Homo sapiens: one gene and its partner. The protein of the gene in region 2 purifies or fractionates together with the protein of the main gene of each other region. This does not show direct contact. Each region holds a gene or a part of one and is shown on either strand. Other genes may lie near its edges.

Region 1 (7,039 bases), on a different chromosome or scaffold from region 2:
CTATAGAATAATTTTTCAAAACAAATAGATGTCCCTCAGTATACCTAAAGGGTTGGTTCTGGGACCCCTGCATATACCAAAACCCACATATACTCAGGTCCTGCAGTTGGCCCTGGAGAACCCACCTATACAAAAAGTTGGCCCTCATATACGCAGGTTTCACAAATCTGCGTGTAAGTGGACCCACACAGTTCAAACTCCTGCTGTTCAACAGTCAACTGTACACAATTTATAACACCACATATGAACTTATTTGTCTAGCATATTAAGTTCAAAAATGTAGGACACTATATTTTATATACTTTAAAAAATAAAAATACTTAATTCATCAACACTGACATAGATTGCATTAAAAACCTTTCCATGGATCTACTCTTCCTATGTAAAACTCAGAGACATGCCTTTTCCATGCTCCTAAAACAGTAGCCATGAGAAAGTAGCTTAAGCCCAGGAGGCAGAGGTACAGTGAGCCAAGATCGTGCCACTGCACCCCAGCCTGGATAACACTTCTCAAAAAAAAAAAAAAAAAGTAAGTAACTTGTACTTCCTTTAACAAATGATTTATAGCTCATTTTTATGTGTTAATTATCACTGTCAGCTGGGTGCAGTGGCTGACGCTTGTAATCCCAGCACTTTGGGAGGCCGAGGTGGGCAGATCACCTGAGGTCAAGAGTTTGAGACCAGCCCGGCCAACATGATGAAACCCCGTTTCTACTAAAAAATACAAAATTAGCTAGGCATGGTGGCGCATTCCTGTAATCCCAGCTACTTGGGAGGCTGAGGCAGGAGAATCGCTTAAACCCGGGAGGCAGAGGTTGCGGTGAGCCAAGATCGTGCCATCACACAACAGCCTGGGCAAGAAGAGCGAAACTCCATCTCAAAAAAAAAAAAAAATTATTATTGTCTTAACATTTCACTTCCTTATTCTTAGCCAACCCCCCCATCTCCAGTCTTCAGATATTTCTATCTTATACATCACCATATTAGTAAACCATTCCAAGCCATTACTTCCAAAGGTAAACAGCTTCTAGGACTTTAACTTACAGACACATTAATAGGTACAAAATGCTGTGCTTACTAGGATATTCACTTCAGTGTTAGTACTAGCAAGACTGGAGACAGCCAATGATGTAAGTCAATACAATGAGATACAACAAAACTATTAAGAGAAACAAGGCATCTCTGTATATAGATATGTCATAATGTTTAAGCAATGTTTAAGATTTAAAATATGGGCCAAGCACTGTGGCTCACGCCTGTAATCCCAGCACTTTGGGAGGCTGAGGCAGATGGATCACTTGAGGTCAGGAGTTCGAGACCAGCCTGGCCAACATGGTGAACACTGTCTCTACTAAAAATACAAAAAATTAGCCAGGTATAGTGGTATATGCCTGTGGTCCCCGCTACTCAGGAGGCTGAGGCAGGAAAATTGCTTGAACCTGGGAGGTGGTGGTTGCAGTGAGCCAAGATCTTCCCACTGCACTCCAGCCTGGGTGACAGAGAAAGACTCCGTCTCAATAAATAAATTAAATAAATAAAAATAAAAATAAAAATAGGGCCAAGCATGATGGCTTATGCCTGTAACCCCAGCACTTTGGGAGGTCAAGGTAGGAGGATTACTTGAGGCCAGGAGTTCAAGACCAGACTGAGAGACATAGCAAGACCTCATCTCTACAAATAATTTAAAAAAAAAAAAAAAAGCTGGGCATGGCCCACATCTGTAGTCCCAGTTACTCAGGAGGCTGAGGTGAAACAATCGCTTGAGCCCAAGAGACAGACTTGCTTGAGCCCAGGCAGCCAAAGCTGCAGTGAGCCATGATCTAAAAATAGAAAAGTGTGCAGCACACTAGCATGTCATATTTAATGACATCTTTAAGTTAACACACATGCACATACCCCAAAAGAAAATCCTCTTAAAGGACAACCAAGAATGACTGCCCCTAAAAAAGGGAAAGAATGGCTGGGAAAGGGATGACTTACGTTACACTGGTGGTTTTTTGTTATTTTTGTTTTATTGAAACAGAGTCTCACTCTGTCACCCAGGCTGGAGTGCAGTGGTGCAATATTAGCTCACTGCAGCTTCCACCTCCCAGGTTCAAGCAATTATTGTGCCTTAGCCTCCCGAGTAGCTGGGATTACAGGTGTGTACTACCACGCCCGGCTAATTTTTTGTATTTTTAGTAGAGACGGAGTTTTCGCTGTTGGCAAGGCTGGCCTTGATCTCCTTGCCTCAAGTGATCTGCCCACCTCGGCCTCCCCAAAGAGCTGGGATTATAGGCATAAGCCACCGCGCCCAGCCACATTGTATATTTTTACGCACATATACTATTTACAAACTTTTTTTTATAATACCTTTTTTTTTTTTTAAGAGAGTCTCGTTCTGCTGCCCATGCTGAAGTGCAATGGCATCATCATAGCTCACTATAGCCTCAAACTCCTGGGCTCAAGCAATCCTCCCACCTCATCCGGCCATAAAATACTTTTTTGAAAAAGTAGTTAAATATCCTTGATTCCATTCATAAATTGATAGTTCTTCAAGTATTGGTTTGCTTTATCAAGCTATTTCAGCCTTAATATTTCTCCTGTAACTTGAAAAAAGACATAACAGTTTTCCTATTTATCCACACCCTGATTTAAACATTTTTATTGAAAGGTCACTTGATGGATCAGAGAATTATTTGTTGCTAAGCCACTCATCCAAAGACTCTAAACCTACACAGTCCAATGTGATAGCTACTAATTAGTTTCTAATCACACTAACTACATTCCAGTAATCGATACCTATGTGTGGCGTGTGGCTTGTGGCTAGCATATTGGACAGCACAGATGCTAAACATTTTCAGATCACTGCAGAAAGTTCTATTGGACATCACTGCTCTACACCAGGAGTCAACAAACTATAGCCTGCAGACTAAATTCAGCCAACTGCTTATTTGTATAAATAAAGGTCTACTGGAACACAGCCATCCTTATCCATACTGGTTTACGTATTATCTGTCGATGCTTTGGCACTACAATAGAGTTGAGTAATTGCACCAGAGACAGTAAAGCCCAAAAGGCCTAAAATATTTAGTATCTGCCAGAAAAAGTTTGCTGATCACTGCTCTAGATTATCAAATTTCATTGAAAAAGAACACATTAATTTCCCTTAGGCCTCAAAAAGTTTTTGAAGGCTTGCATTACAAAAATGACAAACCAGTTAAACATAAACAGATGTCTACTTCATTTACTAAGTGTTAAAGATACTTAATTTTTTACCATAAACCCATAAAACCAAAATTTGTCCTAAAATGTATTTAAATACTGGTATTTTCTAAGCATCTCTATAAAATAGCTAGTAAAAGCACAGAAGACAGATTACTAGTCTAGCAATTCTAAAAGAGCTGGCCTAAGAGAAAATATTTATTTCTCAAAAATATGCCTATTTTCCTTAGCAATATCTAATATCTGTTCAAAGAAATGGGGCCAGGCGTGGTGGCTCACACTTGTAATCCCGGCACTTTGGGAGGCCGAGGCAAGTGGATCATGAGGTCAGGAGATTTAGACCATCCTGGCTAACACGGGGAAACCCCATCTCTACTAAAAATACAAAAAAAAAAAAAAATTAGCCGGGCATGGTGGTGGGCGCCTGTAGTCCCAGCTACTCGGGAGGCTGAGGCAGGAGAATGGCATGAACCCAGGAGGCGCAGCTTGCAGTGAGCCGAGACTGCGCCACTGCACTCCAGCCTGGGAGACAGCGAGACTCCATCTCAAAAAAAAAAAAAAGAAATGGGCCAGGCACAGTGACTCATGTCTGTAATCCCAGCACTTTGGGAGGCTGAAGCAGAAGGATCACTGGAGCCCAGGAGTTCGAGACCAGCCTGGGCAACACAGTGAACACAGTGAGACCTCGTCTCTACAAAACAACAACAAAAATTAGCCAGCACGTGCATCTGTGGTCCTAGCTACGCAAGAGCCTGAGGCAGGAGGATCACTTGAGCCCAGGAGTTCAAGGCTACAGTCAGCTACGACTGCACGACAGCACTCCAGCCTTGGTGATAGAGTGAGACAGTCTCAAGTGAAAAAAATGAAAAAAGAAATTTATCAACTGTTTGGAAAAGCAGTACATTTCTTAGAAAAAATACATTAGAAGTATTTACATCTAACCACCTATTTCATATAACATTACTGTATTTCAGGCTTTCAAAGCAATTACTAAAAACTTCGTTTTTTAAGAAAAGTAAATAAACTTGCGTTTTTAAAGGAATTTGGTCTGCTTTTAAAATCAGTGGAGCATCTTTACCAATTAAAGGCATTTTTAATTGAATATAATTTTGTGTATTATGTGACCAACTCTGTACAAGGCACTGGACAGAATGATGATCCTTTTGCAGCTAGTAATTTATGAGGCATATTAGTATCACTTACAGTGACTTTACATATGTAAGAACAAAGGGGTAGAAACACAGCTGAGGAGTACACCGAGTGATTAAGAGAAGGCTTCAAGGAGGAAAGCTATTTGAGTTGGGTATTGAAGTATGAGTTTTACAGGTTTGTAAGGATAAGGGAAAAGGGGGAGGGAAGAATGGCACAGCAACACCATTCTAAAGTGAATGTAGAACAAAGAAAATGAGACATGAAAGGACTTAAGTACCAGAAAATACGAGTTCAATGCTACAGAAGTATATAGCTTAAATGCAACTGGAAAAAAGAAATGGTGGCAGGTATAAAGACTACAGACTTCAGGGTCTGAATGTAAATGTCTTTACATGACAAACTAAGGAATTAAAATTGGATCTAAGTCTCAAGTATGAATCATGCAAGGAGAGAAGAGAAAGAGATGAGATTGGATCTGATAGTATAAGCCATAGCAAACGTATAGCTTTCCAAAAAGAGATATGACATGATTGATTTTATAGGAAAATGACACTAGCAGCAATTTGGATCTTGGACTATAGTGAGAGACCAACCAGCTACTATCCAAATCAGAAATAATGGCCAAAAGTGTTGACAGTGAGGATGAAGAAAAAAACAGATGAAAAGCAGCAGCATGGCCAGGTAAGGTGGCTCACGCCTATAATCCCAGCACTTTGGGAGGCCGAGGCAGGTGGATCACCTGAGGTTGGGAGTTCGAGACCAGCCTAACCAACATGGAGAAACCCCATCTCTATTAAAAATACAAAATCAGCCAGGCGTGGTGGTGCATGCCTGTAATCCCAGCTACTCAGGAGGCTGAGGCAGGACAATCGCTGGAACCCAAGAGGCGGAGGTTGCAGTGAGCTGAGATCGCACAATTGCACTCCAGCCTGGGCAACAAGAGCAAACTCCATCTCAAAAAAAAAAAAGAAAAGAAAAAAGAAAAGCAGCAGCTACATGTAGTAGAATCTACAGTCCTGCACTCCCACTTTGTAAATGTCCTGTATATGTGATAATTTCCCTTTTCCATATTTTTTTTTGGTATAAATGCACTTTTGGCATGCAAAAAGGTTTATACAGTAAGTTATCAAGACTGGAGGTAAGATGGCCTTTTTTTGTTTTTCCTCCCATGGTATTAGGAAGGAAAATGCAAGAACTCTTGAGTTAGATGTGGATTACAGGCTATCTCTGCTGTGACACTATGAGCATGACAGTTAACCTCTCAAAGCTCTAGGTTTCTCATTTGTAAAAAGAGGAAATTGAACTAGATGATCTAAAACTTTGGAAAGTTCTAATCCTCTGATGATACTGACAAATCTTTAATCTTCTGTAAGTGTCCAACAAAAATGCAAATACAATAATCTAACTACAAACCGATTGTGAAAAACCCATCAAACACAGGCAAATACTATTGTACCTATTAGCTATATGCATCTACATGTACTCATTGTGAAGAATTTCATGACATACATTAAGTTATGTAGTCATCAACCACTCATTTGAAACCCTGACAAAACAAACTCTGTAAGCTGTGTCAGCCATGCAAGGCACCACGCTCGGCTAATTTTTGTATTTTTAGAAGAGACGGGGTTTCGTCTTGTTGGCCAGGCTGGTCTCCTGGTCTCAGGTGATCCACCTGCCTCGGCTTCCCAAAGTGCTGGGATTAAAGGTGTGAGCCACGGCGCCCGGCCAACAAAAGAACTTTTTAACAATATTCCTTTATCGATCAAATTTTTAAATGTTTCTAACTGGAAAAATGCAGTCTTGAAATTTGTAACCATAAATTGTCATGTGCGACTTCTTAATAATGAAGAAAATTTATTTTATGAATTCTTGCTTGTATTAAAAAGTTCAGAAATATTCTGAACTTGTTTCTCTTCAAGAGTAACATTTGGCTGGGTGTGGTGGCATGAGCCTGTAATGCCAGCACTTTGGGAAGCCAGGAGTTCAAGACCAACCTGAACAACACAGCAAGACCCTGTCTGTAAAACGAAAAAACAAAAAAAGAACAACTTTTAAACCGGATTTTTTTTTTTTTTTAAAGTAAAAGAGAGTTGGAGGTCCAGCATGATGGCTCACACTTGTAATCCCAGCATTTTGGGAGGCTGAGACAGGAAGATCACTTGAGCCCAGGAGTTCAAGACTAGCTCTGGCAACACAGCAAGACCCGGTCTCTACAAAAAATATTCAAAAGTATAAATATTAAATAAAAAGGAGAGTTGGGTCAAAAGCCTCTCTTCCTGCAAAACAAAAAGGTGAACAAATAACTTTTTTTTTTTTTTGAGACAGAGTCTCGCTCTGTCGCCCTGGCTGGAGTGCAGTGGCGGGATCTCGGCTCACTGCAAGCTCCACCTCCCGGGTTCACGCCATTGTCCTGCCTCAGCCTCCCGAGCAGCTGGGACTACAAGTACCCGCCACCATGCCCGGCTAATTCCTTTTGTATTTTTAATAGAGACGGGGTTTCACCATGTTCACCAGGATGGTCTCGATCTCCTGACCTCGTGATCCACCCGCCTCGGCCTCCCAAAGTGCTGGGATTACAGGCGTGAGCCACCGCACCCGACCCAGAGAATATTTTTAATTAAAGGTGAAAAACTCAGATGTAAATCTTGCATTTCCAGCCTCTTATAAATTTGTGATATAA
Region 2 (7,039 bases):
CTCTCCAGTTACTTAAAATCTAAGATCCGGAAAAAAACTCCCCATTAAAGTTTAATTTTTCTCTCATTTAAAGATAAATTGAGCTTTATACTGATAGCAAAAAACCACTTCTTATCTTTAACAAATTAACAAACAAAGCTAAATAAAATTTTAGCTTTCTTCTTCCTCCATGCAGAAAGAAATCTGGCTATTTATTTGTGCATTTGCCGTTCTAGGTGGAGGAAGAAAATCTTATATAATTATATAGCTAGCCTATGATTAAGTCTGGGAAAATGCTTGAGAGGGCCATCAAATTAAGCATTAATAAAAACTTTTAAAATACATTACCTCATTGATCTTACGAAGAAAAACACTGGAGAGAGAGAATTACATTTTGCCTCAGTCCTGTTATATTTCTAGGGACTTGCTGAACCCTAGCAAATGTATTATTTTGATGTTTTATAGAAGAGAAGGTCTGCTATCTTATGTATGTGTCTTCCTTGATAAAGAGAACGCACGGTACTTTGAAAAATATGGCATTGCAGACATCAGCCAAGTGGCTTTATCAGTTTATAAAGTGGGCTGCTTCTTCACTTCCTCACTGACTCACACTAATGCTGGAAAAGGAAAAATTTGCTTAGGAAAGGGAGCCACAAGTGGGCAACACCCTAAAATCAGATGAGATGAGCAAAAAAAAAGTGCAATTCAAAACAAAAACAAAAAACCACTAACAAAAACCCTATCATGCTCTGAAATATGGTCATTAATGAGAGTCATCTTAAAAGAGTTCAAATGAGTCACATGCAGAAGTACTCCATCCCAACAGATGACCTGTAAGTACCCTGCAAGGTGAGAGGAAAGCACTTCCCAAATCTCATCAGAAGAAATGAACCCCTCCCTAAGGCTGGCTTAAGGGGGCAAGGTAGTTAACTAAACAACAAGCTCTCATGGAGCTCAAATAATAGTAGTGGGACAAATAAAACTAAGTGTAACAAGTGGTTTGAGGCATGGCAATGGCATACAGAATGGCTGTGGTCCTATTTTTAGAGGTGATCAAAGGCCTCCCGAAGGAGGTAACATCTTAACAGAGAACTGAATGAAGGGAGCAGGCCATGCTAATCTCTGGAAGGGAATCTTTCCACCTAAAGGGAAGAAAAGATGCACAGGCACTGAAATGAGAATTTGCTCAGCAAGTTCAAGAACAGTAACATGGCCAGTGCAACAACCATGGAGGAAAGAGGGCCATGACTGGTAGGAGACAAGGTAGGAGAGAGAGCCAGTGTCAAATCATGTCTGGCCTTATCAGCCCGAATTTTTTATACTAGGTATACTGAGGTAATATGTGACTTCCATTTAAAAAGGTTCACTATGATTGCTATATCTAGATCTCTCCTACCCAAAAGGTGAGAAATGACAAGAGGATCAAATAAGATTAAGTGTCCTTGTCCATGTCCATCTAGTACCATTCGAGGGAAAGACATGGTGTCATAGAAACACAGTGCCACAAGAAGGGGTCAATTAGGCTGTGTATCAGGATAAAACACCTCATAAGACCAATCTATCCACTTTGCTTAATTCCATGCTCTCCAATTTCTGTTGTGAATGCTCAGTTTCCTTATAGTACATAGATGCAAGAGCCTCAAACAGTGACCAGGAGAACTGTGTTTGGTGAAAAGGCAATGTCCAAATTATTTCTAAATAAACCAACATGCCTTCTGATTTATTTCTTGTGTACTTGGTTGGCATCAATACAACTGAGTTTCTGAACCTACAGATTTCAAGCTGAAAGCGTGCCTGATAATGTGGCATCCAAGCTTGAGGAGCTGGACTCACTGCCATGCCTACTGCAGCATAGATTGCTCCAGGTCCTCTCCTATGAGGCAGAGTTAGGAGACGGGCAGATAGTTCAAAGTTATATGCAATATATAAAATTTTACTTTTATAGGCAGTACACATTTATTGTATATATCTCATTAATATAAAGTTGTTAATCTTGTGGTGTCTACAATGCCAGGTAGAAGAATAAGGCATGGATTGTTTCTCAGCGTCTACTCAAAACATTTTGTAACCTTACTAGTTGTTTTTTTTTTTTTTTTTTGAGACAGAGTTTCACTATTGTTTCCCAGGCTGGTGTGCAATGGCGCGATCTCAGCTCACTGCAGCCTCTGCCTCCCAGGTTCAAGCAATTCTCCTGCCTTGGCCTCCCGAGTAGCTGGGATCATAGGCGCACACCATCATGCCCGGCTAATTTTTGTATTTTTAGTACAGACGGGGTTTCACCATGTTGGCCAGGCTGGTCTCGAACTCCTGGCCTCAGGTGATCCACCAGCCTCCGCCTCCCAAAGTGCTGGGATTACAGGCATGAGCCACCACACCTGGCCCTTATTAATTTAATCTCAGTATTTGAAAGGCAAATAAATGAATGCCGTTAGAAAGATATTTGCCTGTCTTAATATTATACTATACTTTACCTGGTTAACTTGATTCTGGAGAGATGTTAGGAGGCCTTCCCTTTGTTCATCTTGTCCCTTAAGGCAGGTAAGTACCAGTGAGAGGAAGGGTTGTTGACTCAAAAGAGACATACTACAAAGGAAGTAATAATAACAACAGATCTAGTTAGAAATAATGCATTACTTCCTCTGGCAACATTCATTTCTTTGCCTCACTATTAGATAAATAAGAGAGGTGGTAAATAGCCAAAGACTGCTTGAAAATTTAAATCATACCTCTACTTATAAAATTAAAAGCCACTGTAATGCTTCTAAATCACTTCGTATGCTCTAATTGCCCTCGAAGCCATTCTCAAACTAGCATCAAACCATACTGCATGTGAGCATGCCGGGCAGTGAGGGTAGAAGACAGTGAATTCATCTTCTACATCAATATGCAGAATTTAAAAATGTACATCAGAAAGAATATCAATTTATACACAGGATAAAATTAAAAATTTTTAAAGTTCTCATATAAAACTCTTGTTTTAGAGTCTGGGAAAACAGGCCTATATATATGTCTGTTGAGCTTGTTTTGGGGTTTGATTTTGTTTTTCAGCACATTTCCCAAGACCAAAAAGCAGGGTGTTAGTAGAGCTAATTCATCAGCCAGGGCTGAGGACTCCAAAAACAGTGTACTTGCTGGCGACCCCTAGTGTGCAGCTCCAACACAGCCCACAGGCTCCAACATAGCCCGCAGCATCCACTGGTAAAGAGGTGTCAAGGCATTTGGTTAAAAATTCTGTTTTAAATTGGCATTTTAACAAAATGTCTTCAATTAGAGAATAATCAACAAATCATATTGACAAACAAAGCGCCATGTTGGAAAGACAAATTTCTTAAAATGAGACCTAGGCCAAAATATTTCAATCAGCATTATTCTCCATGGGCAGAATAAAGAGCCCCTGATGTGGGAAGAGCGATCTTTCAAGTCTCTTCAATACCATCTGTCCTGCCTATGGGAAGTTAGGCAATGCACATACACTCACCTATCAGCAAATATGATTTGAAAATTAGAATTATGCTTCCTTGTTGGTTAATTAATCCTGGCCAACATGGTAAAACAACCAGATGTAAAACAAATACAGTACATACAATGCTGGGTCTCTACCAAAATGTACTGTAGTTAAGAGCACAAGCTCAGAAGCCAGACCTCCTGGATTTAAACCCAGGCTTTATGTCCTTCACTGTGTGTCCTGGAGCAACTCATGTAACCTTTAAGTGTCTGTTTCAACATGATATAAAGAAGATAATGAGAGTACCTACCACATGATTGCTATAAGAATTTTAAAAGCTCATGTACATAATGAGTTTTAGAGAGGAGTTGCCATTCTGTAAGCAGTCAATAAATGGTGGCTACTATAGTATTATTCATTAGTGGACAAGAAATCTATGTGCTTAAAATATTTTTTTAATGGAAGAAATTATCAATTTTTTTCCTTTACTCCTAGGTTTCTTGGCATTTTCACATTAGGGTGAGGTTTCTTTCTTTCTCAGTAACACGGTTTTCAAATATAATTACTTGAAACCTTTTCTTGGGCATAAAATAAATTAAGAAAACATTAGTTGTGGTGGCCGAGGAGTCTTAATGTCTAGTCTAGAACAGGAGCCCTAAATGTTAAAAATATGAGCAACTAGTTCAGACACCAACATGCCAGAATTATACATTATATTTATTTTAAACATAAATATCTAAATAATAAAAAAATAGAAATAATTAAAAATAAAATACAGGGATCAGGTAGCTATCCAGATCTGATTCAGTTGGTCTAAAGCGGGTCTCGGAAATCACTGTTTTTAACAGTTCAGCAGTGATTTGGATATAAAGGCAGAATTGAGAACTAATGTATTAAGGATTATAACCTGAAATTTTTTAGGAATAAGACAGCCTTGCCTAATAGAATATTCCCAGTTCCATTTAAAAACTAAATTTCAGTGGACTGTGGGTACAGTGACCACACAGGTTTACAGGAAGTGAGACTTTCTCAATTATTCTTTAAACTCTCACACAGACGCCCATCTTCCAGCCACACCTTTTCTGTTTCTGTCTGTCCCTTTCCTTTTTGGAAGAAGAACCCAAGTGCTGTCCCTTCTCCAGCTCTTCCCCAGCGGCTTTCAGCACTCTTCCTTGCACAGAAGTTGGCAACCTGGCGATGAGGGGGGCCACCAACCATACACCCCTGCGTTCGGAGGAACTAAAATCAGAAACAGGTGTTACACCGGAGAAAGCATCCTTTCCCCTGCTCTCACAGTTATAACAGAAACTCCAAAGCGAAACTTTGATGTATGAGACACACAGACTGTTCTAAAATTTCCCTTTTATTTCTGTATTATCTTTCCTTTTTCCGAACACTAGACATTTGCATGAGCTTTCCACCTAAGCCTACAGAAAGCAATAAAACATGCAGTTCTGGAAGGATATTGTAACTAAACTGACTTTAATGTTTTCCGATGACCCCCTCTCTCTAATTAAAAACAATCACTTTGTCCAACAAACAATATACTTTTCTGTCACAGTTACAATATGAAATATTATATGTAAGCATACTAATAGCTAATTTTTAAGGTTTAAAATTCGCTAGTTATACTTTATACCAAAATGATGAAATACAAATCAGCCTTTCATGATTAAATAATTACTTTAAGACTTTATATGCCTACTGGTTCTAATTCTGCACAAAAATTACCAGGATATATTTGTGCAAAATAATTAATTAATAAAAATGGTGGAAAAAGCGTTTCCCATATAATGAATACTACGTAACACAGTAGACTAAGGGACACTGAAAGCATGAACCAAACCTGAGTTCACCTGCAGTTTCAAGGTGTTTAAGCCTACTCAATCAAATATTCCGAAGCTATCATTCACCCCAGCTTTACTCATTAACTTATTAATAATAATCCCTGCTTACAAGTAACTATGTTCTTCACATTCCTATGACTTAAAGAAAAATCACTGTGCTACACAAAATTTACCGTTACTTGTGAAAAATTCATGACAGTTCAATAAAACAACAGACAAAAATACCTTAGGAATGTCTTTATTCCATTCTGTCTCGTGCTACTTGTATCAGCACTTCCAATACTGTTTGGGTTGAAGAGGCTCATGCCAGAATTAGAAGAATTATTTAGGTCTGCAGACTGCTGGAATACCTCTATTGTTGCCTTTGCAATATTGTCCAGTAAGTTGTTCATTTCGGCCACAGAACCAGAGCCCTAGAGTTAGATATAAGAATACTGGCACATATGTGTATTCCTTTATCCTCAAACATCAACGTGTTTTTGCTTTTTATAAAATTTCATACAGAGATAAGCTTTCAATATAAACTCACAGGGTCCTTCAAGCACTGTTTGATCATTAGCTGGAGTTCTAACCAGGATTGCCTCAGTGTCCACTGCTCAAGATTCTGGGAAAAATGGAAAGAATTAAAACATTATGGGTATCAAATGTGTTAAAATACAGTAATTTCTTACAGTACTCCTTCTCTCAAGAAAGAGCAGAATAATCATACACAATGAAATAATTTATATGAGTCAAAAGGTTCCCAATCTTGCTGCATATATATTCAGTAGCGATACAAACCAATAAACAGAAACATTAATTATTAATTAGTTAATACTGTGCCTGACTCAGCTATGCACTGAAACTAAATAAGCATTTCTCCTTTCAAAATCTATTTAACCAATCCCAATCCAAAATGATTTCAATATTTCTTTAATAATATATTTAACATAGCCCCTCTCTGAAGCATATTTCTCATGTAAATACAATACTGATTTAAAATATCAATATTTGTTTGATGATCATATACAATTTGCAGCATGTACATCCACCCAAAAATAAAGTATGTCAATTCCACAGAAAATGTGTGGGAATAAAAATCAGAATTGAAATCACAAATTAGCAAGGACAAAAAAAGAGAGGAAGTAACTCTTTTTATTATTACGAAGAATTTATCAAATGACAGAAACACAATCTGTATACGACTGACCTGAAGAATACGCTTAATGTGCTGTCTTTGCAGATTGTCCCCCTCGGTACATTCTTTAATGCCATGAGGATAACAGATAAGCTGCAGTAATTTCTGTGCTTGCATATTTGAAAGCACAGGGTCCAATATAAGTTCTTTGTCTGTACATAATCTTTCAGGTTCTTTTAAGCAATGCTCTCCTACCCATTCCTAAAAATAATATGGCAATTAGATTGACAGGCACTGGCTTTCGGTATATATATATGCAATATGTACTAAATCCACAGTGCATAATTGAATAGAAAACTGATAGGAATTTTCCAATTTAAAAAATTACATTAAAAAGTAGGTAGAAAAATTTTAAAAAACAAAATTTTTAGCATTTTGGCTTCTAAAAAATACAAAGTAGAACTTGCTTAAAAACATTTTTTAATGGGAAAAAAGAAAAGACAATAAAGAGAATATTAGTATGTTTTTAACTGGAAAGTAAGGTCTTGCTCTAGGCACTATTTTGTGTCAGTTTTTTCTAACTTGCTATATAATGATTCTATCAGATATACGTTCTTCATAATTTTTATGGAATACATTGTACTATCTCAC

Evidence for each region. The genes of interacting proteins can lie anywhere in the genome.
Region 1: the proteins of MED12L (region 2) and CDK19 purify together in Homo sapiens (affinity purification with mass spectrometry; 5 studies listed by BioGRID and IntAct, with this or other methods). This does not show direct contact.

What each region holds. Positions count from the first base shown.
Region 1 is NC_000006.12:110,805,462-110,812,500, forward strand, and holds part of CDK19 (cyclin-dependent kinase 19), read right to left. Parts: intron 1-7,039.
Region 2 is NC_000003.12:151,375,636-151,382,674, reverse strand, and holds part of MED12L (mediator of RNA polymerase II transcription subunit 12-like protein), read right to left. Parts: intron 6,650-7,039; coding exon 6,461-6,649; intron 5,876-6,460; coding exon 5,801-5,875; intron 5,685-5,800; coding exon 5,497-5,684; intron 4,664-5,496; coding exon 4,502-4,663; intron 2,563-4,501; coding exon 2,451-2,562; intron 20-2,450; coding exon 1-19. UniProt on the Homo sapiens protein: May be a component of the Mediator complex, a coactivator involved in the regulated transcription of nearly all RNA polymerase II-dependent genes.